5 separate regions of the Homo sapiens genome follow, and all the other regions are linked to region 2. Evidence: fine-mapped expression QTL. A gene starts in region 2. Each other region holds a variant in brackets. All regions are shown on one strand. Distances are from middle to middle. Region 1 overlaps CEP41 (centrosomal protein 41). Region 2 holds the start of CEP41 (centrosomal protein 41). Region 3 overlaps LOC105375508 (a long non-coding RNA gene). Region 4 has its middle 19 kb from the start of MESTIT1. Region 5 overlaps CPA4 (carboxypeptidase A4).

What was found.
Region 1: its variant is fine-mapped to the expression of CEP41 in whole blood (TOPMed, PIP above 0.99). The same link has a PIP of 0.9 or more in caudate, cerebellar hemisphere, cerebellum, esophagus mucosa, esophagus muscle and gastroesophageal junction.
Region 3: its variant is fine-mapped to the expression of CEP41 in esophagus mucosa (GTEx, PIP above 0.99).
Region 4: its variant is fine-mapped to the expression of CEP41 in subcutaneous fat (GTEx, PIP 0.92).
Region 5: its variant is fine-mapped to the expression of CEP41 in NK cells (Schmiedel 2018, PIP 0.94).

Annotation. Positions count from the first base shown.
Region 1 is chr7:130,391,504-130,395,657 of GRCh38, forward strand. CEP41 (centrosomal protein 41) reads right to left here. Exons shown (of 11, transcript NM_018718.3): 11 at 2,268-4,154. Among named protein-coding and RNA genes, the nearest start is that of CPA1, 13 kb to the left of the region's middle. RefSeq lists an enhancer at 3,179-3,238. The variant C/T (reference allele first, on the strand shown) is at 2,286.
Region 2 is chr7:130,438,603-130,442,756 of GRCh38, forward strand. It overlaps CEP41 (centrosomal protein 41), which reads right to left and starts at 2,414. Exons shown (of 11, transcript NM_018718.3): 1 at 2,332-2,414. The coding sequence starts at 2,364. It overlaps LOC105375505 (a long non-coding RNA gene), which reads left to right and starts at 3,152. Exons shown (of 3, transcript XR_927973.3): 1 at 3,152-4,086. RefSeq lists an enhancer at 2,100-2,854.
Region 3 is chr7:130,761,059-130,765,212 of GRCh38, forward strand. All of the region lies in intron 3 of LOC105375508 (a long non-coding RNA gene), which reads left to right. Among named protein-coding and RNA genes, the nearest start is that of KLF14, 29 kb to the left of the region's middle. The variant T/C (reference allele first, on the strand shown) is at 1,748.
Region 4 is chr7:130,469,706-130,473,859 of GRCh38, forward strand. No RefSeq gene overlaps it. Among named protein-coding and RNA genes, the nearest start is that of MESTIT1, 19 kb to the right of the region's middle. The variant G/A (reference allele first, on the strand shown) is at 2,186.
Region 5 is chr7:130,313,129-130,317,128 of GRCh38, forward strand. All of the region lies in intron 10 of CPA4 (carboxypeptidase A4), which reads left to right. Among named protein-coding and RNA genes, the nearest start is that of CPA4, 22 kb to the left of the region's middle. The variant G/GT (reference allele first, on the strand shown) is at 2,303.

The DNA.
Region 1 (4,154 bases), 47 kb before region 2:
ACAATTTTGGAAAATATTGCAACTTAAAAATGAAAGTATTGATATGAAAATAAGTATTAATAACCTAAAAGACAATTTTGGAAAATATTGCAACTTAAAAATGAAAGTATTGATATGAAAATAAGTATTAATAACCTTGAGGGGTTAAAATAATAAAAAGGGTTAAAGAAAAAGACAAACATTTCAAAAGAAAAATAGGCAATTCCACTAAGAAGAAACACAAATCAATACATGTATGAAAGACACTGATCCTCTAAGTGATTTCTTGTTCATTAAGGAGAAATGAAGATATTTTTCTCTCATCAGATTGGCAAAGAATAAAAAGACTGATGACTCCAGTGTTAACATGTAGTGCTGGTGGAGCAGAAACTGGCACCACCTTCCCAGAGGGCAAATTTGGCAATATAAATCAAAATTATAAATGTATTGTGTCTTTGATCCAGAAAACCCACATGGAAGAATTTACTTTATAAAAATATTTGGATGGATTCAAAAATATGTATGTACAAGATTGGAAAAGTAAAAAACAAAAAACCTAGATAATTACCAGTCTTGATGCTGATCTGACACATCCACACACTGGAACAACACGACACCATTAAGGGCTGTGTTGACATGGAAAAATGTTCACAACATACTAAGTGAAAGAAACTGGCTATAAGATGGAAATGTTATAAAACTGGATTGTGGTGATGGTTGCACAATTCTGTAAACTTAACTCAAAATCATTGAGTTGTGCACTTAAAATGGGTGAATTTTATGGTATGTGATTTATACAATACAGTTGTTTTAAAAAAGAAGCTGGATACAAAATATTGAGTCTGGATCCCATCTTGTTTAAAAGACACACACACACACACACACACACACACACACACACACACACACAAACATGCTTTCTCTCTCTCCTTCTCTTTCTCTTCCTGGAAGGATATATCCCCCAATAATAATAATGATTAACCTGGGTAGTGGTGGTGGTAGTTTTCCTTTTTATGCTTCTCAGCATTTCTCGCAATGAGCTTCTATAATCAGCTTTTATAACGGGCAGGGAGTGAAGGGAGCTATTTCGAACACAGTAGATAACATGTGTGTAAAGTTACCTAACATCGGTGTATTATCAACATCAAACAGCTAAATGGCCATCTTAGTTTTTACTCAGATTCTTTTGATTTGTCTAAACTCATTTTTTTCTGCTCCGGTATAATGTTTCATCATCTTGCCCGGAACGCTGCAGTTTGTCTTATCTTCAGAAAAATTCACACTCCAAGATACAGCTGGAAGCAGCAGTGTTTCTACCAAAGGAAGAGATTACTCAGCTCATGCAGTTGGGGGCCATTCCCCATCCTACCCCTTGTTGTAGCTTGATGAAAATTCCCAAAACCCCTTCCTGCTCACATTCAGTTCTTGTAGCTATCTTGGGAATTGATTATGCTAATGCCTATTCCCCAGGGCCTTTGAAAATCTTTATTTTCAAATGAACTCATTTTACTTTTTACTCAGACCATTACATATGGTTCTCTAATGGCCTGTGGGCCCAATATTGGTGATCTATGAGAATCCTTAGGGTAGCCTCTTGAATTAACACTCAGATATGCACAGCTAGCTTTCTGTCTTTGGCCTAAAGTTAAAATGGGAATGTCATTGAATACAATCCAGATATGACCTCACTGGTCCTTCATCCAGTGCGGGGCGATTCATCACCCTGGCAATTGTTTTGCAAGGGCGAGTGGGATGAGGTGGATTTGAAGATGCACAGGGACTCTTGCTTTAAGGACTACAGCAACATCATTCTGTGAACACACTAAGACCCAGATGCTACTCAGATGAAGCTGATATGACTAACCGTAACATTCAAATTGGCCAAATCAAGGAGAAGCTCTCAGAAAAGCACAGAGCATGCATCGTCAAATCTAAAAAACTGTCAAAGGGTAATGAATTATTCCCCAAAGCTTTCAGGATCTGCATTAATTTGGCAACTCAAACACTGAGCATCATCCAACAACCTCAGAGACTGGGATTGCCAAATGTTTATTGCCAAACTAAAAGGAGAAAATGGAAAGTCTTCTGCTTAACCACAGTAGTGGTATTGGCTACATTTTTAGAAGAGTGCAGTAGAATAAGGGCTCTGCTGACAAGGACTGGGGCAAGGAGGTTTGCCTCTGCTTCCCCCGGGAACTCAGGCCTATGGCCATCGCCAATTCATGCAACTTATGTTTCAGCCGAAATCAGAAACATCACCACAAAGGAAAGAAAAGATCAGGCACAAATCATATCAATATGGTTTA[C/T]TGAATGAATGGCTAGACCTATCAGGAAAACAGCCTACTTTTTTCCCCCTACAATATAATTAAAAGTTTGTAATTCTCATTCCTTAAGTGGTACTTTGCAAGGTGTCCATTAACAGACAAAATAACCTCGGAAGCCCTGGAGCACCTGTCTTCAAGATAAGACAGCAGACACAGGCGGTGGAAATGTGGAAATACGCATTCCCCAGAGCAGATGTTTCAGTTCCTGAATTTCCATCGCCTTTTGTGCAGGCAAGCGGAGGAAAGTTTTCAAAAGAATCTCGGCTGACTAGGAGGGAAGGGAAGCCAATAGCGAAGGGAAAGGTACATTTTCACGGTAAGTTAGAGGCATCACCAAAGGAGAACATGGTTGTGCCCACCCAGAGTGAGAAGCATAGAGCGGAGTGGCTGAAAGAACACCCTCTGGAGCCACAGTTCTCAGGCTGGCTCCTGGCTTTTCAAACCCTTGGTCAGAGACTGAAGGCAAACCTGAGTCACTTAATTTCTACCCGAACCTCAGTCTCCTCATCTGAAAATGGGGGTGCCTGCCTCATCAGACTGTTGTGGAAATTAAATGGGTCAAAACATATAATGAAGAATCTAGGAGCAAAGTAAGCTCTCCACAAACATTGGCTAGTATTATTATTTTCTGGAAATCTTCAAGATTTGAAACAAAAGAGAAAACCTACTCTTAAGATGGGGGTGGTGTGTGACCTTTGCGTGCTGAATTTGGGAGGATACTTTAAGCCTGGCAGAGACAGGGTAATAACACCCCCAGCAGCTCTCTGGGTACTTCCTGTAGAGGGAGATCTAAAAACCTCAGGGTTTTGAATGCCTCGCCCACAAAGGCAGGATACACAAGGGGGACAGAAGATAACGAGCTTTCTGGGTCTCCAGAATGACAGACTAGCACTGAGTGGCCACCACAGTGGGCATCACATCCAAACTTCAATCTTGACAGGTTCAATTCATTTATTCATGAACACTTATTAAGGGCCACTGTCACAGGGTTGGTGATTTTCACTCTCTGGGAGCTTATAGTCAAAATAATTGCAACAGGAAGACATATTGATATCCTTTAAAAGATGCAGCCCATCCGTCCACAGCATTTGAGAAGTGGCCTCTCTTTGCCTCACATTTTACCAGGTGCTTCAGGATGTTACACAGGTGAGAATTTGCTTCTGTACAGAACAAAGAGGATCAGCAACAGAGAGGGGAGCCATCAGGGGATCACAATGTGACAGACACCGTTTCGAAAACACATAAAATCATGCACCGAATCCTGTTCTGCCTGAATTCAAGGCTGACAAATTTCCACCATTACATTTTTTATGTTGTAACTGACCTGTGTATCCATTTAAAGATGTCATAATAATAATTTCAATAATTATTGTAAATCTAGGAAAGTATTACTACCCAAATGTATTCTGAACATTTTGGAAGCACAATGTTATTTATTGCTTTTGCATGAAAAAATAATTGTTAGTGAAAAATTAATGGACCTGCATGTAAGTACTCAACATGCTCACATAATTAAACTGGTGAATTATATTCCACACATTTGCGGTGTTTCCTGGGGAAAAAAAAGTATCGTGGGAGTTAAATCTTTGAAAGAATTGGGAAGAAAATAAACACACATTAAAGACACTGAGAACGTTTTAGAACTGGAGAAAGAAAGGTTCTTACTGATTATCTTCAGAGTAGAGCAAGAAGGTGGTCATGGATTTAAATCCAGGTGGACAGAAACTAATTATTCGCTCTAAAAAAGTCAGATAACATAAAAGACAGAATCTATAGCCAATAAACAACATGACAGAAACCAAAACCAACACAAGAAAAATTACCTACGTATTTCTTCCTAGCCTAGGACTC
Region 2 (4,154 bases):
TCATTTCCAGTCCTGGAGCCTCCTCAAACCCATCTTCCACAATGTAGCTACAGCCATCTGCCTAAAATGCAAATCTGACCATGTCACTCCTTTAATAACTCAAAAAATTTCTCAAATCCTGACCAGCAGACAAGATAAATATGTGGCAAACTGCCATTCTCCTCACCTATCTCTCCCACCCCCATGATACACAATATTAACATTTTTATTAATATTTTGATAGACAAATCATAACTTTATACATTTATGGGGTACAATTTGATGTTTTGGTATATACACACACACACAATGTGGAATGATTAAATCAAATTAACATATCCATCAACCCACTTATCTTTTTTTTGAGGTGAGATATTTGAAATTTACTCTCATAAAATATACAATTTACTCTATTTTGAAATCTACAATATAGTTGAACTTTGGACAACATGGGCTTGAACTGTGCAGATCCACTTATACCCAGATTTTCTTCTGCCTCTGTCACCCCTAAGGCAGCAAGACCAACCCCTCCTTTTCCTTGCCCCTTAGCAATGAAGACAATTAGGATGAAGATGTTTATGATGATACACTGCCACTTAATGAATAGTAAATATATTTTCTCTTCCTTATGATTTTCTTAATAATAATCTTTCCTCCAGCTTACTTTAAGAATTCAGTACATAATACATATGAGATACAAAATATGTTAATCAAGTGTTTCTGTTATCAGGAAGCCTTCCAGTCAATAGTAGGCTATTAGTAGTTAAGTTTTTTTGCAGGGGGGAGGGGAGTAAAAAGTTGTACATGGATTTTCTACTGGGGGTTATGAGTCTGCTGTAATTATTATTAACTATAGTCACCATGCTGTGCCAGAGATCTCAAAAACCATTCCTCCTGTTTAACTGTAACTTTGTGCCCTTGGATCAACATCTTCCCATTTCTGCCCTCCTTCCCCCCACCCTCCAGGCTCTGGTAACCACCATTTTATTCTCTACTTCTATGAGCTGGACTTTTTAAGATGCCACGTATAAGTGAGATCATGCAGCATTTAGACATTACCAATTGACCATGGCTCTCTTGCAGGGCTTAGACTCAGCCTTACAGCTTTCTCAGCCTAGTACCAGGCAGCCACCAAGAGATGAAACAGTTACAACTCCTATTTGGGATAAAGGCTAAGAACCTCAGCAAGGCAGAGAAAGCCTGGACTCCTACAGGGGCCTGTTCTGAGTTCACACACTCCTTACCTTCACTTGGGCTGTTCTACCCGGGATGATGCTTCACCTGGCTAATGAATGGCCTTGCCACCCCTTCCATCTCCACAACCCTTCTCTCACTCCCTCAGTTGAGTACTACCTATTTTCTCGTAACATCTTGCTCCCCGACCACACTGTACTCAAATTCTGTTCACAGGCTCCTTCACTAGACGCAATTTATTTATTGTTTATTTTTATTTTTTTGAGACAGAGTCGCTCTTATCACCCAGGCTGGAGTGCAATGGCACGATCTCGGCTCACTGGAACCTCCATCTCCTGGGTTCAAGCGATTCTCCTGCCTCAGCCTACCGAGTAGCTGGGATTACAGGCGCCTCACCACCACGCCCGGCTAATTTTTGTATTTTTAGTAGAGACGGGGTTTCGCCATGTTGGCCAGGCTGGTCTCAAACTTCTGACTTCGTGATCCGCCCGCCTCGGCCTCCCAAAGTGCTGGGATTACAGGCTGAGCCACCGCGCCTGGTCCACTATACGCAATTTATTAAAGGGCAGAGGCCTTGTCTTCTTTGTACGTCTAGCACCTACTGCACCGTGGAAGTTTCCAATAACGTTTGTTGAAACTGCCACAAATGCAGCAGGGGACTAGCGGTGAAACAGATGAAGAAACTGAAGGGTCCTATGGAGAGAGGGGTAAGCCTAATGTCCTATTTTGCCCGTTTTCCAAAGGTTTGGTCAGCTTACTCCTGCTCTTCCTGTATCCCCACAATCAGAGATGCTGGCTGGCTTTCAACACGTGCCATTAGTGTGCAGCGCTTCCTTTGTCTTTTCTGTTTTGTAACTGTCACTCCGAGACTGTAAGCCATTTGAGGGCAAGGGCTGTGTCTTTGGGTACTTCGCTCCTCGCAGTCACAAGTACTGGCGTGCGTACGCGGGGAGAGATCGCTCCTCAAAACGGGGTCCTGAACGCTGCCCCGCGGCCCCCAAGCCCGGCCCGCCCCGCCCCTGCATCCCGACCCCTCCTCACGCCGGCCCCTTCCCGCCTTCCGGGCGGCGGAAGTCGCTGGCTGCTCTTCCCTGCCCACATGAGCCTTTTCCGGTGCGCCCGCCCCCTCCGGCTCTCCGGCCGAGACCTGGCCCTCACCTCAGGGTTCCCAATGTGCCTCCGGAGGGACATATTTTCTCCAACCGACCACGTTCGGGGTTCTAGCCTCACGGGTTGCCTCTAACCCTAGCTTCCTACCCCCACAACCTTGTTCAGCCGCCTCCCTATACCCTCTTCTCCGATTGGCCCGTCTTCCCCGGCCGGCCAATGGGGGCCCCGTTTACTCTCTCATCTCAGGGTCGCAGAAGGGCAAGACGCCGCTCAATGGTTGCCAAGGGCAACGCGGGACGCCGGCTAGCGAGGCCTTTTGTTCTCTGGGCTGGGGCTCGCCGGCTCCAGCCTTAGGGCGGGAAGAGAGGCGCGGGGGGAGGGGAAGGCTGGCGCCTGCGCAAAGCCGGGGGCGGGGGCAGTGGCTTGAGAGCCGGGACAAAACACGAGTTTTAGCTAATGTGGAACCATAAATACAACACAAGACTCCCCATCCCCCAGCTCCGTTTTATGGCCGTTTCAACCAAACATCTGGGCTACTGATTCCACAACAGGGAATATTATATGGGCCAGGGTTGTTCAGCAGAAATGGGAGAGTATGGTTTATTATTTTCTGGTTAAGTTAATATGCGAATTATGCAAAATACATGGGTAAATACAGTAATTATCGGTGCTTTAAAAGCTTTTAGGCTAGCTATAGAGCGACATCCTTAATTGCAAAGCACACGCGCTATTCTGTGGTTCATCGTTCATTTAACAAATACTTAATAAGCACCTTATGAGAAAAGCTGCAGTAGGTCTTGTGGAGAATGGGAGGATGACTAGGACCCAATCCCGTCGTCATGGAAACCATTGTGACTCCTGCCACCAGCCACCACCTGTTCCCATTCCGGATCTGAAAATGAAGTCCTAGCACCTTTACAAAACAATTACACACACAGTTTGACTTGGCTCCTAAATGTCCCACCAAATCCATCAAAATTATTATTTCCTTTTACATGAAAGGAACAACACAGTAACCCTTTGTCCTTTGCTCTAAGTTGTTTTTCCAGGAATGGAGAAAGGTTACTCTGAGCAGTTCATACTCGCCAGTTGTCTGTTAGTGAATAATAGCACACATTTGAGCTACTTCAGGGTCTGTGAGATGACCCATTCAACAACATGGCCTCACATGCCCTTGTTCTCTTAGGCACTTCAGCAACCCAACCTTAGGGCTACACCTTGGATCATGTTGCCAGTCAGTGCTGCTTGACCAGAATTTTGAATTCTGGCCACAGCTGCTTCTTGGACTTTTCATGTCACTCTTTCATGTTTATTAAGTTTTGTCTTAATTTCCATAATCTTTGCCAGTTCTTTAACCCCTCTAAAATTCTCAGTCTCTCACTCCTCTGCTAAGGAAGGGTTTGAAGGCTGCAAAAAATTGGAAGGAGGCAGAGGGAAGAATGTTAATCTAGAAGCTTTTGCATAGCAAGCAGAAACTTCTAGATTCATTAGTATTTAGAATGTATGCTTACCTGGTGCACCTTGTGGGTAACCATAGAGATTATGGATAGAATAACGGGAAAGGAGAGAGGGAGATGATAGGGGACTACACTCAGAGGTGGTGAGAAAGACAGAAAAGGAGAGATTTAAAGACGTGTAGGTAAAATCAATAGTATACATGAGAAGAGGTAAGGGGTGCAAGGAATAGAAATTCATCAAAGATGGCTATAGTTTCTCTAACTTGAGGAACTGAGTAGATGGGCGATAATGCATTAATCAAGTTAAAGAACAACAGTCAAAAAGCCAAAACAGCAGAAAGTACAAGTAGGTCCAACAGTCCATTCAACTTCCATTCTTCAGTGTTTTGGCTCACTTCTTTGTACGGTTGTCTC
Region 3 (4,154 bases), 320 kb after region 2:
GGTATTTATATTAGTTTCCTAGGGATGCCTAAAAAAATCACCACAAATGTAGTGGCTTAAAACAACAGAATTTACTCTCTCACAGTTCTGATGGCCAGAAGTCCAAAATGAAGGTCTTGCAGAGTTGACATCTTCTGGAGACTCTGAGGGGGAATCCCTTCCACGGTCCCCTTCCGGCCTCTGATGGCTGTCAGCGATCCTTGGTACTCTTTGACTTACAGCTCTGCCTTCATCTTTACATCTTCTTCTCCTCTGTCTGTGTCTTCTCTTCTCGGGACACTTGTCATTGGATTTAGAGCCTACCTGGATAATTCACAATGATCTCATCTTGAGAGTCTTAATTATGTCTACAAAGACTCTTTTTCTAAATAAGGTCACGTACACAGATTCCTGGTAGACATATTTTTGTGTGTGTGTGTATGGGCCACAACACAAACTACTACAGCATCTATTAAGAAAGGTATCTTTTTTACTAGACAGGCAGTTTAACCAACTAAGACGCAGTGCCGCCCAAGAAAGATATCTTTTGGCTGGACGTGGGGGCTCAGAACTGTAATCCCAGCACTTTGGGAGGCTGAGGTGGGAGGATCACTTGAAGCCAGGAGTTCAAGACCAGCCTGGCCAACATAGTGAAACCCCATCTTTACTAAAAATACAAAAAAATTAGCCGGTTGTGGTGGCACACGCCTGTATTCTCAGCTGCTCGGAGACTGAGGCAGGAGAATCACTTGAACCTGGGAGGCAGAGGTTTCAGTGAGCCGAGATGGCACCACTGCACTCCAGCCTGGGCGACAGAGTGAGACACTGTATCAAACAAAACAAAACAAACAAAAAACCTGAAAGGTATCTTTTAACTTGTTCTATAGATAAGTCTCTCCTCCCCCCTTCTCTCCTCTCATTTCTCTTTCTTCCAGAAAAAAAAAAATCCCTTTCTCTAACCCCATTCTTTCTAACACTGTTTTTCAGATCTCAGCTTAAAGGTTACTACGTGAAAAGCTGTTTTTGATTCAGTAGACTTGGCTAAATACTCCTCCTGTGTATAGTATGTGCTCTTTGTCGCCCCTGAACTTCTATTATCATATTACATCATATCTTCTTTGGCCATTTTTGTGACCCTGTAACTTGGAATCATGGATATATCGCTCCCTATTTTATTCCCAGAGATTGATGCATCAACCAACATATAAAAAGATTTATACATATTTTGGTATAAAAACTTAATATGATGCATTAAACTAATAGATTGTCTTCTGTTGAACTGTTCTGTTCTTGTAACAAATGGCAGTTAGTCATACTGTGTTATTCTTTTACTATAGTGTTTGAATTTGCATATTAGACATTTTATTAGATTTTTTGCATCTATATTCAAAAGCAAGTATGGTCTTTTGCTATTCATTACTTTGGTTTAGGGAGCAGAGATAAGCTAGATAAATAAGTTGTCTGTCTTCTGGAAGTGTTAAGTAGCATGGGAGGTATGTGATACTTGAGTGCCTAAAAGAGCTTCATCATATAGCCATCTAGGCCCACTAACCTATTTCAAGTCTGGCTAAACATCTCCCAACTTTTCATCATTATTGGTTTTTGTACTTCTGTCTTTTGAGTTTTTCTACTTCTTTCTTGAAGAAAGGTAGCTCGTTCATCATATTTCGATTTTCAAAAATTTGATATGAGTTGTATATTGAAATCTCTTACAATTTAAAAATCTATTTCATAGTTCCAATGATGTCTTCTTTCTCATTACTAATGG[T/C]GTCTTTGTTGTTTCATCTTTTTCAAGTTTAATTTTCTGCAGATTTTTTTCATTAGATTTTTAAAAATTAGGTAATTAATTTAAAAAACTTATTGAGGTATATGTGACATACCATAACATTTATCCATTTCAAGTTAACAATACAATAATTTTCAATAACGCTACCCTGTGGTTCAGCCATCAGCATAAATCAGTTTTAGAATGTTTTCATGAGCCCATAGAAAGATCCCTCATGTCCATTAAAAGTTAATTCCCATTCCCGTCCCCAGCTCTAGGCAACCAATAATCTACTTGCTCTCTCTATAAGTTTGCCTTTTCTGGACATTTCATATAAGTGAAGTTATAAAATATGTGATCTATTGCATCTGGATTATTTCGCTGAGCATAATATTTTTGTGAGTCATCCATGACAAGCATGTGTCAAGAGTTTGTTCCTTTTCATTCCTGCGTAGAATTTCATCATATGAATATACTGCATTTTGTCTATTCATTCACCAGTTGAACCAATCAGTTAGGTTGTTTCTAGTTTTTTGTATTATAAACAGTGCTTCTGTGAACATTTGTGTGCATGTGTTTGTTTGGACACATGTTTTTATTTATCTTGGGTAGGACCTAGGAGTAGAATTGCTGGGTTATGTATTAGTTTTATGACTTACTTTTAAAGAAACTGTCAAACTATTTTCCAAAGAAAAGAAAAAGACTTTTCCACATTCCAAAGAAAAAACTTTATCTCCATACTTTTATTCAAGAATGGATTAATTATTTCCAGGTCTATTTTTATGTTTTTGAGGACCCTCCATACTGTTTCCATAATGGCATACTAATTTCCATCCTCACCAACAGTGTGCAATGCTTGCCTTTTTTCCACATCCTTGCCCATTCTTATTATGTTCTGTCTTTGATAATAACCATTCTAACAAGTGCCAAGTGATATTTCACTGTGGTTTTTATTTACATTTTCCTGATGATTAGTAATGTTGAGTTTTTTTTTTTTAATATATATACCTATTAGCCCTTTGTGTGCCTTCTTTTGAGAAATGTCTTTTCAGGTCCTTTGCCCATTTTCTAATTGGGTTGTTTTCTGGCTGTTGAGTTATGGGAATTTTCTTATATATTTTGGATGTTCATCCCTTATCAGATGGTTTACTAACATTTTTTCTTTTTCCATACATTGTCTCTTTACCCTGCTAATTGTTTCCTTTGCTGTGCAGAAGCTTTTGAAGTTGATGTACTGTCGTCTATTTTTGCTTTTGTTGCCTGTGCTTTTGGGGTCATATTTTAAAATTCATTTCCCAGACCAATGTCAAGAAGCTCTTCCTTTATGTTTTCTTCTAGTAGTTTTATAGTTTCAGGTCTTATATTTAAGTCTTAATCCATTTTGGGTTTTTTATATATAGTATGAAATTAGGGTCTAATTATATTTTTCTACATATGGATATCCAGTTTTCCCAACACTATTTATTGCAAATACTGTCTTTTCCCCATTGTATGTTATTGGCATCTTTGTTGAAAGTCAATTGAATGTAAATACATGGACTTACTTCTGCATTCTCTATTCTGTTTCACTGGTCTATGTGTGTGTATTTATGCCAGTACGGTGCTATATATATATATATATGCACACACACACATATATATATATATACACACACACAAACACATTTATATATACTTTAAATTCTGGGTTACATGTGCAGAACATGCAGTTTTGTTACGTAGGTATACACATGCCCTGGTGGTTTGCTGCACCCATCAACCCGTCACCTACATTAGGTATTTCACCTAATGTTATCCCTTCCCTAGTCCCCCACCCCTGACAGGCCCCAGTGTGTGATGTTCCCCTCCCTGTGTCCATGTGTTCCCATTGTTCAACTCCCACTTATGAGTGAGAACGTGCGGTGTTTGGTTTTCTAATCTTGTGATAGTTTGCTGAGAATGATGGTTCCCAGCTTCATCCGTGTTCCTGCAAAGGACATGAACTCATCCTTTTTTATGGCTGCATAGTATTCCATGGTGTATATGTGCCACATTTTCTTAATCCAGTCTATCATTGATGGACATTTGGGTTGGTTCCAAGTCTTTGCTATTGTGAATAGTGCTGCAGTAAACATGTGTGCCTGTGTCTTTATCGTAGAATGATTTATAATCCTTTGGGTATATGCCCAGTAATGGGATTGCTGGGTCAAATGGTATTTCTAGTTCTAGATCCTTGAGGACTCGCCACACTGTTTTCCACAATGGTTGAACTAATTTACACTCCCACCGACAGTGTAAAAGCGTTCCTATTTCTCCACATCCTCTCCAGCACCTGTTGTTTCCTGACTTTTTAATGATTGCCATTCTAACTGGTGTGAAATGGTTTCTCACTGTGGTTTTGATTTGCATTTCTCTAATGGCCAGTGATGAT
Region 4 (4,154 bases), 31 kb after region 2:
GGATTTTCTACATAAGCCATCATATTGCATGTGATCAAAGAAAGTTACATTTATTTATTCTAATCTACATACCTTTTATTTATTTTTCTTACCTGATTGCACTACTAGGACCTCAAGTATAATGTTTACTTGGAATCGTAAAGAGGACATTGTTGCCTTTCTCTGGACCTTAGAGGAAAAGGATTCAATCTCTCACCATTAATTATGATGTTAGTAATAGGGTTTTTTTTTGTAGATACCATTTATTAGGTTAAAGAAGTTCTCTTCTATTTCTAGTTTGCCAAAAATTTTGACCATGAATTGATGTTAAATTTTATCAGAAGCTTTTTTCTGTATCTACTGAATTGGTCATATAATTTTTCTCACTTTAGTCTATTAATGTGGTTAATTACATTGATTGATTTTTGGATGTTGATGTAGACTTATATTCCTAATATGAACCCCACTTGGTCATATGTATTGTCTGTTTTATGTATTGATGAATTAAATGTGCTAATATTTGGTGAAGGATTTTTTTGTCTATGAGTTATATTAGTCTGTAGTTTTCTGTTGTCTGATTTTCGTATTTAGGGTAGTGCTGACCTCATAAAATAAGTCAGGAAGTGGTCTGTCCTTTTCTATTTTGTGGAAGAGAATGTGTAGAGAATGTGTTGTTTTTTCCTTAAATATTCAGTAGAATTCACAGTAAAAACATCTTGCCATGAGTTTTTTGAGAAAGTTTTTAACTACAAATTTAATTTATTTAATAAATATAGCATTATCAGAACTATTCTTATCTATTCCTTCTGTAGTTTGTATCTTTTAAGGAATTGGTTCATTTTATCAAAGCTTTTGAATTTGGGGGCATAGAGTTGTTTGTAACATTGCCTTAGTATCCTTTTTAATATTTGTCAGATCTCTCTCCTTTTATTTCTAATACTGGCAATTTGTATCTTCTCCCTTCCTTCTCGTTTAGTCATGCTAATCTTTGGTTTTCAACAGAGAGGGCAGCATTTAGGGAGACACAAACTTGCCTAGAAAATTATATAGGGACACAGTTGACTCAAGCATTGGTCTAAGAACATCAGCAGGTTTTTGATTGTCAAGGAAAAATTGGATTTTGTAGTATCAGGAAGCCCAGCCTGTTGATCCTGCTGGGGACTCATATATCCAGATGGAAGGTGAATTTATGTTCAAGCATAATTCCTTAGCAACCTGAGATACTTTAGTTGCACTAATATTTGTGTCTTTTTAGACATTAGATTGGAATGATCTCATGATAAGATATTAACTAATGGTCCAAGGTCCTGGAACTATTTTTTTTTTTTTTTAGGGTATTGCTGTTGCCCAGGCTGGAGTACAATGGCATGATCATAGATCACTGCAGCCTTGAACTGCTGGGCCCAAGTGATCTTCCCACCTCAGCCTCCCAAGTAGCTGGGATTACAGGAGTAAGCCACTGCAGGCATTTCAAGAGCTCATTCTTTTCAGATGGCTAAAAGCTGGTTCTTTGGGAATATCAATAAAGTTGATAATATGTAGTATACTAATCAGGAAGAAAAGAGAGAAGGCGCAAACTACTAATATCAGGAATAAATATTATAGGAGATATAATGGGGATATCACCAGAGTACCTATAGGCATTAAAAAGATAATACTATTTATGAAAAAAATACATGCCAATAAATTTTGACAATGTTACAAACCACCATCTCACTCAAGAAGAAATAGCTTACCTGAATTGTCCTATATGTATTAAAGTAATTGGATTTATAGACTAAAAACCCTCTTCCCCCATAACATTAACTAGCCAACAAAACAAACCCCTCCAGGGCAAGATAACTTTACTGATAAATTCCACCAAAATTTAAGGGAGTAATAATACCAATGCTATAAATAATACCAATACATTTTTCTGAAAAATGGAAGAGGAAGAAACATTTCCCAACTTATCTTGTTAGGTCAGCATTACCTTGATACTAGTATTGGACAAAGGCATTATAAGAAAGAAAACTATATTCCAATATATTTCATGAACATAGACACAATCTTAACAAAAGTTTAACAAATCAAACCCAAATCATAATACATCATCATACCTAGTTGTCTAGCAATAGATGAATGGATAAACAAAACATAGTTTCACAGCTTGCCAGGAGTTAAAAAAGAAAAGGAAGAAAAGAAAACATGGTAATATATACACAGT[G/A]GAATATTATTCAGCCATAAAGAGAATGAAATCCTGTCACTCGTGGCAACACGGATGCAACTGGAGGACGTTATGTTAAGTGAAATAAGCCAGACACAGAAAGTTAAACACCACACGTTCTCACTCGTATGTGGAAGCTAAAAAACAGTTGATCTCATAGAAGTGAAAAGTAGGACAGGGGATATTAGAGGCTGGGAAGGGCAGGTGGAAGGAGGGAATAGGAAGAAATTTGTTAAAGAATACAAAATTATAGCTAGATAGAAAGAGTAAATTCCAGTGTTGTATTCCACTGTAGGTGACCATAGTTAACAATAATATGTAGTTTTTATCCCTCCCTTCCTCCCTCCCTCCCTCCCTCCCTCCCTTCCTTCCTTCCTTCCTTCCTTCCTTCCTTCCTTCCTTCCTTCCTTCCTTCCTTCCCTTTTTCTTAGAGATAGGGTCTCACTTTGTCACCCAGGCTGGAATGCATGCTGTGATCATAGCTCACTGCAGCCTCAAACTCCTGGGCTCAAACAATCCTCCCACCTCAGCTTTCCAAACAGTTAGGACTACAGGTACATGCCATCATACCTGGCTAATTAAAATTTTTTTTTTTTTTTTTTTTGTAAAAAGAGGGGTCTCACTATGTTGCTCAGGCTAGTCTCAAACTCCTGGTCTCAAGCCATTCTCTTGCATCGGCCTCCCAAAGCACTAGGATTACAGGCATGGGCCACTGCGCCTGGCCTATTATGTAGTATTAAATGCTAAGAGGAGGATATTGAATGTTCCCAACATTAAGAAATGATAAATGTTTGAGATGATGCATATGCTAATTACCCTGATTGGCTCACTATACATTATATGCATTGAAACATCACTACATACCCCATGAATATGTAAAGTTATTAAATGTCAATTAAAACTAAAAATAAATAAAAAGTATATCATCAGTATTTACCTAAGAGAAATATGTCCACACAAAGCTTTGTACACAAATGTTCATAATAGCTTTATTTATAGCAATCCAAAATGGAAGCAACCCAAATGTCTTCCTGTAAGTCACTAGGTAAATGAATAAATAAGTAGTTGATGGCTACATAGTTGATTCCATATAAGGAATACTACTCAGCAGTAACAAATAATACACTATCTATACACCCAGCAACATGATGGATCTCAAAATCATGTTGAGTCAAAGAGGCCAATCAAAACAGAATACATACTGCATGGTTCCATTTATATAAAATTCTAGAAAAGGAAAACTAACCTATAGTGATAGAAATTAGATCAGTGATTACCTGGGGATGGGGGAAGCAAATAACAGATTGTGAAAAAGGAAGACAGATGGATTACAGAGGACCATGAAGAAATTTGCGGAGTGGGTAATGGCTTTGTTTATTATCTTGATTATTGTGATGATTTCAGGGGTATACACATATGTCAAAATTCATGAAATTACACACTTTAAATATATGTGGTTTATTGTACAACAGTTATAGCTCAATAAAGCTGTTAAAAACTCACCAGAAATGAAAAATGTAGAGAGGGCTGAGGACAGCTTTAAGTGGATGTTGGTCTCTGGCAGTCATTTATCTCTGCCTCCCCTACTTGCCTTGTTCTCATTTTTGGATTTCCTGTGCCTCTATTCTTCCTCATTTTGGCTGTGCATGTTCACTTTTATTTCCTATTGCTGTGTCAACAGTTTGTGGGGTTAGAACTTGGAAAGGGTACTGGGTCTCTTTACTCTTTTCTTAAGCCCCTATTTTGTCCCTAGTTTGCCTTTGGTCATTTCCAAAGCTAAGAACATTTCCAGAGCAACAATTTTGGTTCCCTCTCTGTATCTTGTATATAGTCCCTGATCTAATAGGCTGAGGTCCTTCCACTGTCTCTGTATAACAGTTTTAACAATTTAATGGTGACAAGAATTGGCAGTTTGTTTGTTTGCTTGTTTTTAATGCCCTTGAATTTTTAGCTGTAAAACTCCATCCCT
Region 5 (4,000 bases), 130 kb before region 2:
CACGGAGAGTTTTTGATCTCAGATTGACTGTAGGAGTAACGCTGTCTGTAGATGTTTTTGGGTAGTAGTCTGTGAGATGGGCAGGATTCTGTCAGTTAAATATCTTTGAAAAAGGTTGATTAGGCAGGGTAAGAACATTAGTCCTAGGCATATTATTAGGACAGAGCCCAGGAATGGGATGACCTGTGTTACGATTTTGTTTCCAAACCAAGAAGTTATTTGGTTGTTTTGCTATTCCTTTAGCTTTTTAGCCCTTTTTAAAAGTTTTTCAGCAGTGTTTCTTACTAGGCCTGATTCTTACCCAATGAGAGGCAGAGGCCCCCTTTTTCAGCTGTTATAAGATTTAATCCCCATTTATTTTGGAGGACTGCAGCTGAGGAGTCTAGTTGGTCTTGGGCTTTTATAAGGCTTCGGGCTATATTTTTTAAAGAACCCTGTAGTTCTGTTGAAAGAGTTTTTTTAAAGTATGTTAAAGACGTGGCCAATCTGCCTGCTCCCAATCCAAGTATAGAGGTTACACCTAAGGCCTCCATCAAAGGAATGACGTGGATGGCCCTCTTTTTTAAAACAGATTGGACAGATGGAATGGGTAAAGGTTGATTAGGAGGAACTAGTTTAATGGAGGGAGAAAGATAAACTAGGACACAGGTTCCAGTTTAGTTGGTGCGGAGACAAAGATATGTGTTGGTGCCACACCAAAAGAACAAGACTTCGTTGTAAATACAGGTGGAGATATGGAAAGAAAACAAGTGAATTAAAGACGGGGTGTTTTTTCTTTCTTGTGGTTCATTACTCCAGGTGGACAAGGAGGAGGCCAGGGAGACACCCACTATGGTAGAGATATAGAAAGAATTATTTTTTACACAATACTGCAGTCAGATGTTGCACTATTGATATCCAACCATGGAAAAATGTGGGCACCAGGGACAACACAGGTTGGGCCAGAGGCATTGGTTGAGGGAGAGGCTGTGAAAAGAGCCAGTTGCAAAAATGCTCTGTTTGCTTCTGGTGATCCTTGGTAGTCAACTTTGTTAGTTTGGTGGTCAGAGGGGTGTTTAATAATAATGAGAGCGGTTGCACTGGTTAGGTGTTAAGGACCCTACAGGGAAATTTTCCTTAGAGGCTGAAAAGTAAAGTGAGGTTTGTTGTAAAACGGGGGTGTGTTTAGTTATGGGCCCTTTAATGGGAGGGCCTTGGGGCTTGAGGTGTTGTAGGGAGTCGTAATAGGTTTGAAATAATTTGTTGGCCTGATTGGCCCTGGAAGCAGGATAATCGCTGACCAGGGTGTCAGCTCTTTTAACAAAGGAAGCTCCTTTCTGGAATTTATAAATTAGGGTTATGTTTCCTGTTAAAAGGTCATGAAGGGTTGTAGGAAGAGCTGCGTAAGCTGAGGAAGACAGCGATAAGCACATTCAGCATTCCGGAGCAAAGGAACAGTTAGCTTGCAGCAAGAGGGATCGTGTAAGGTTTACAGAGAGTTCTAGTTTGAGAGCAGTTAGGAGTGGTTGTATTGGTGAGGTTGATGTGATTAGGGAATTTATACTGAAAGAAACAAGAAAAAGAGAAAACAGTTATTTGGGTAGGAGTAAAGTCCTGGAAAGTTCCTCGAAGCCGTAGGTCCCATAGCACAGTAAGGAGCTGTTCAGGATGTATAATGGGAATTCTGTAAGAGTACCACTGAAGGGCTGTAATGCGGTTGGTTAGGAAGCGACGAAAGTTTGGGAGAGAAAGAGATGTAAGCGGCTTATGTGGATTTCTCTTCCTTTTTCTTCGGGATTCGGGTGAGGTGAAGGGAAGTGGGTCCTATGGAGACACAAGAGAAGGCTGAGGGATTTTAGACTTGGTTGTTTGGGTATGTGGTGAAGGGAAGTCTGTTTTCTTGAGAGAAGTATAATGAAACCAGCTGGGGAGTCCTTGGAGTTTTGCTGCCGTGGGTGTAGTAAGGATGATCTGGTAAGGTCCCTTCCACTTAGGTGTGAGGGGGGGAATTGGGGGTAGGACTGGGATCCCAGTCCTGGTGTAGGAAGGGATTAGAGGAGTCAGTTACGGGTTGTGGCAGGCATTTGTTAGCATATTCCCAAATAAAATGGCAGATGGTATGTAGAAGAGGGGAAACGAGAGGGGTTGGTGGAGGCAGGGCTTGACTCTGAGGTGGAACAAAAGGTGTGAGTGGTCTTTTGGACGTGAGTTTAAAGGGGCTGAGCATTGGAGGTTTAGGTGGGAGTGCCTGAATTTTTAGAAGGGCCAAAGGTAAAAGTGTAACCCAGTTTGTATGTGTTTGGAGTGAGTACTTGGTGAGGGT[G/GT]TTTTTTAGAATGTTATTCATTTTTTTAACCTTTCCTGAAGATTGAGGGTGATAGGGGATGTGTGGCTTCCAGGTGATTAGTAGGGCCTGTGCAAGTGTTTGAGTAATTTGATAAATGAATTCAGGGCCATTATCAGATTGAAAAGAAAGAGGCACCCCGAACCTGGGGATGATTTATGTTATTAATTTGGAGGCGACAATAGAAATTCGATTGTTGGATGGAAAAAGCCTCCACCCATCCTGACAAGGTATTAGCCAGAACTAAAAGAAATTGAACCTTGTTTACTGGGGCATATGGGTAAAATTAATTTGCCAGTCTTGTCCTGAAAGGTGTCCCCTGGCTCGAAAGGTTGGGAAAGAAGGGGGTTTAGTGTTGGAATAAGGTGACGCTTTGTGGCAAATAGAGCATTGATGGGAAATGGCTTTTAACTGTTCCTTTATATCTGGGGTTATGTGTATATGAGAACTTATGAAATGTTGTAGAGGTAAATGGCTACTGTGGAAGAGATTGTGAATATCTCATAAAAGCGTTGTTTTTTCAGGGTTAGGTGGGACTAATTTGGTTCGTATCAACCAGTATGGGGGTTTGAATTGTGCCCCCGCCATAACTAGTTGCTATATTTGGTGTTTAGGATAAAAGGAGGGGATATGTTGTATGAGGGGAAATAGGTATTGGGGAATTGGATGATTGGTTGAGACGTGTTTTGCTCAATAGTCAGCCTCACAGTTCCCTAAAGAAATGTGATTGATGTCCTTTGCAATGGATAACTGCAACCTTTTCTGGAAGTAAAGCTGCCTTTAGATGATGGATTAGTTTTCCATTAATGATAGGAGTTCCCTCAGCTGTGAGATAGCCCTGCTTGCTCCAAATTTGGGCATTGGAATGGATGATGTTATAGGCATATTTAGAATCGCTGTATAAATTGTGTGTTTTTTGCTAGGGTTAGGGCTCTTAGGGCAACTAATTCTGTTTGTTGGGAGGATGTGCCCAAAGGCAAGGGGGCAGCCTCTACAACTCTTTTAGGTGGGAGAGAGTGGGTATCATTATGATATCCCTTAAAGATGGCATATCCTGCTTGGAGGGAGGGTTTTTTGATGTGCTGCCATTTATAAACTAATTTGGGGCTCCCTTTATGTGAGTGGAAGTAAGGTGGTGAAACATGGTGAGAGAACTTGTAATTAGATCAGAGCATGAGTGTTGGTTGGGGTTTAAAATTGGTGTTGAGGCTGGGCGCGTTGGCTCACGCCTGTAATCCTCCCACTTTGGGAGGCCGAGGCGGGTGGATCACCTGAGGTCAGGAGTTTGAGACCAGCTTGGCCAACATGGTGAAACCCCGTCTCTACTAAAATACTTTAGCTGGGCATTGTGGTGTGCGCCTGTAATCCCAGCTACTTGGAAGGCTGAGTCAGGAGAATCACTTGAACCTGGGAGGCAGAGGTTGCACTCCAGCCTGGGCTACAAGAGCGAAACTCTGTCTCAAAAAAAAAAAAAAAAAAATTGAAGATAAAAGACTGGTGGGATTTGGGGGGTAGCATATATGAAGAGAGATAGAAGGTTGAAAGAGTATTGAATATAGGGCTTGCATGCGAGAGGATGGAAAGGATGAGATGGAGGTGAGCGCCTTATGGCTGAGCATATCTTGTAGACTGTGAGAAGAAAATACCTGAAGGGATCTTTATCTGGGCTCAAGCAATCCT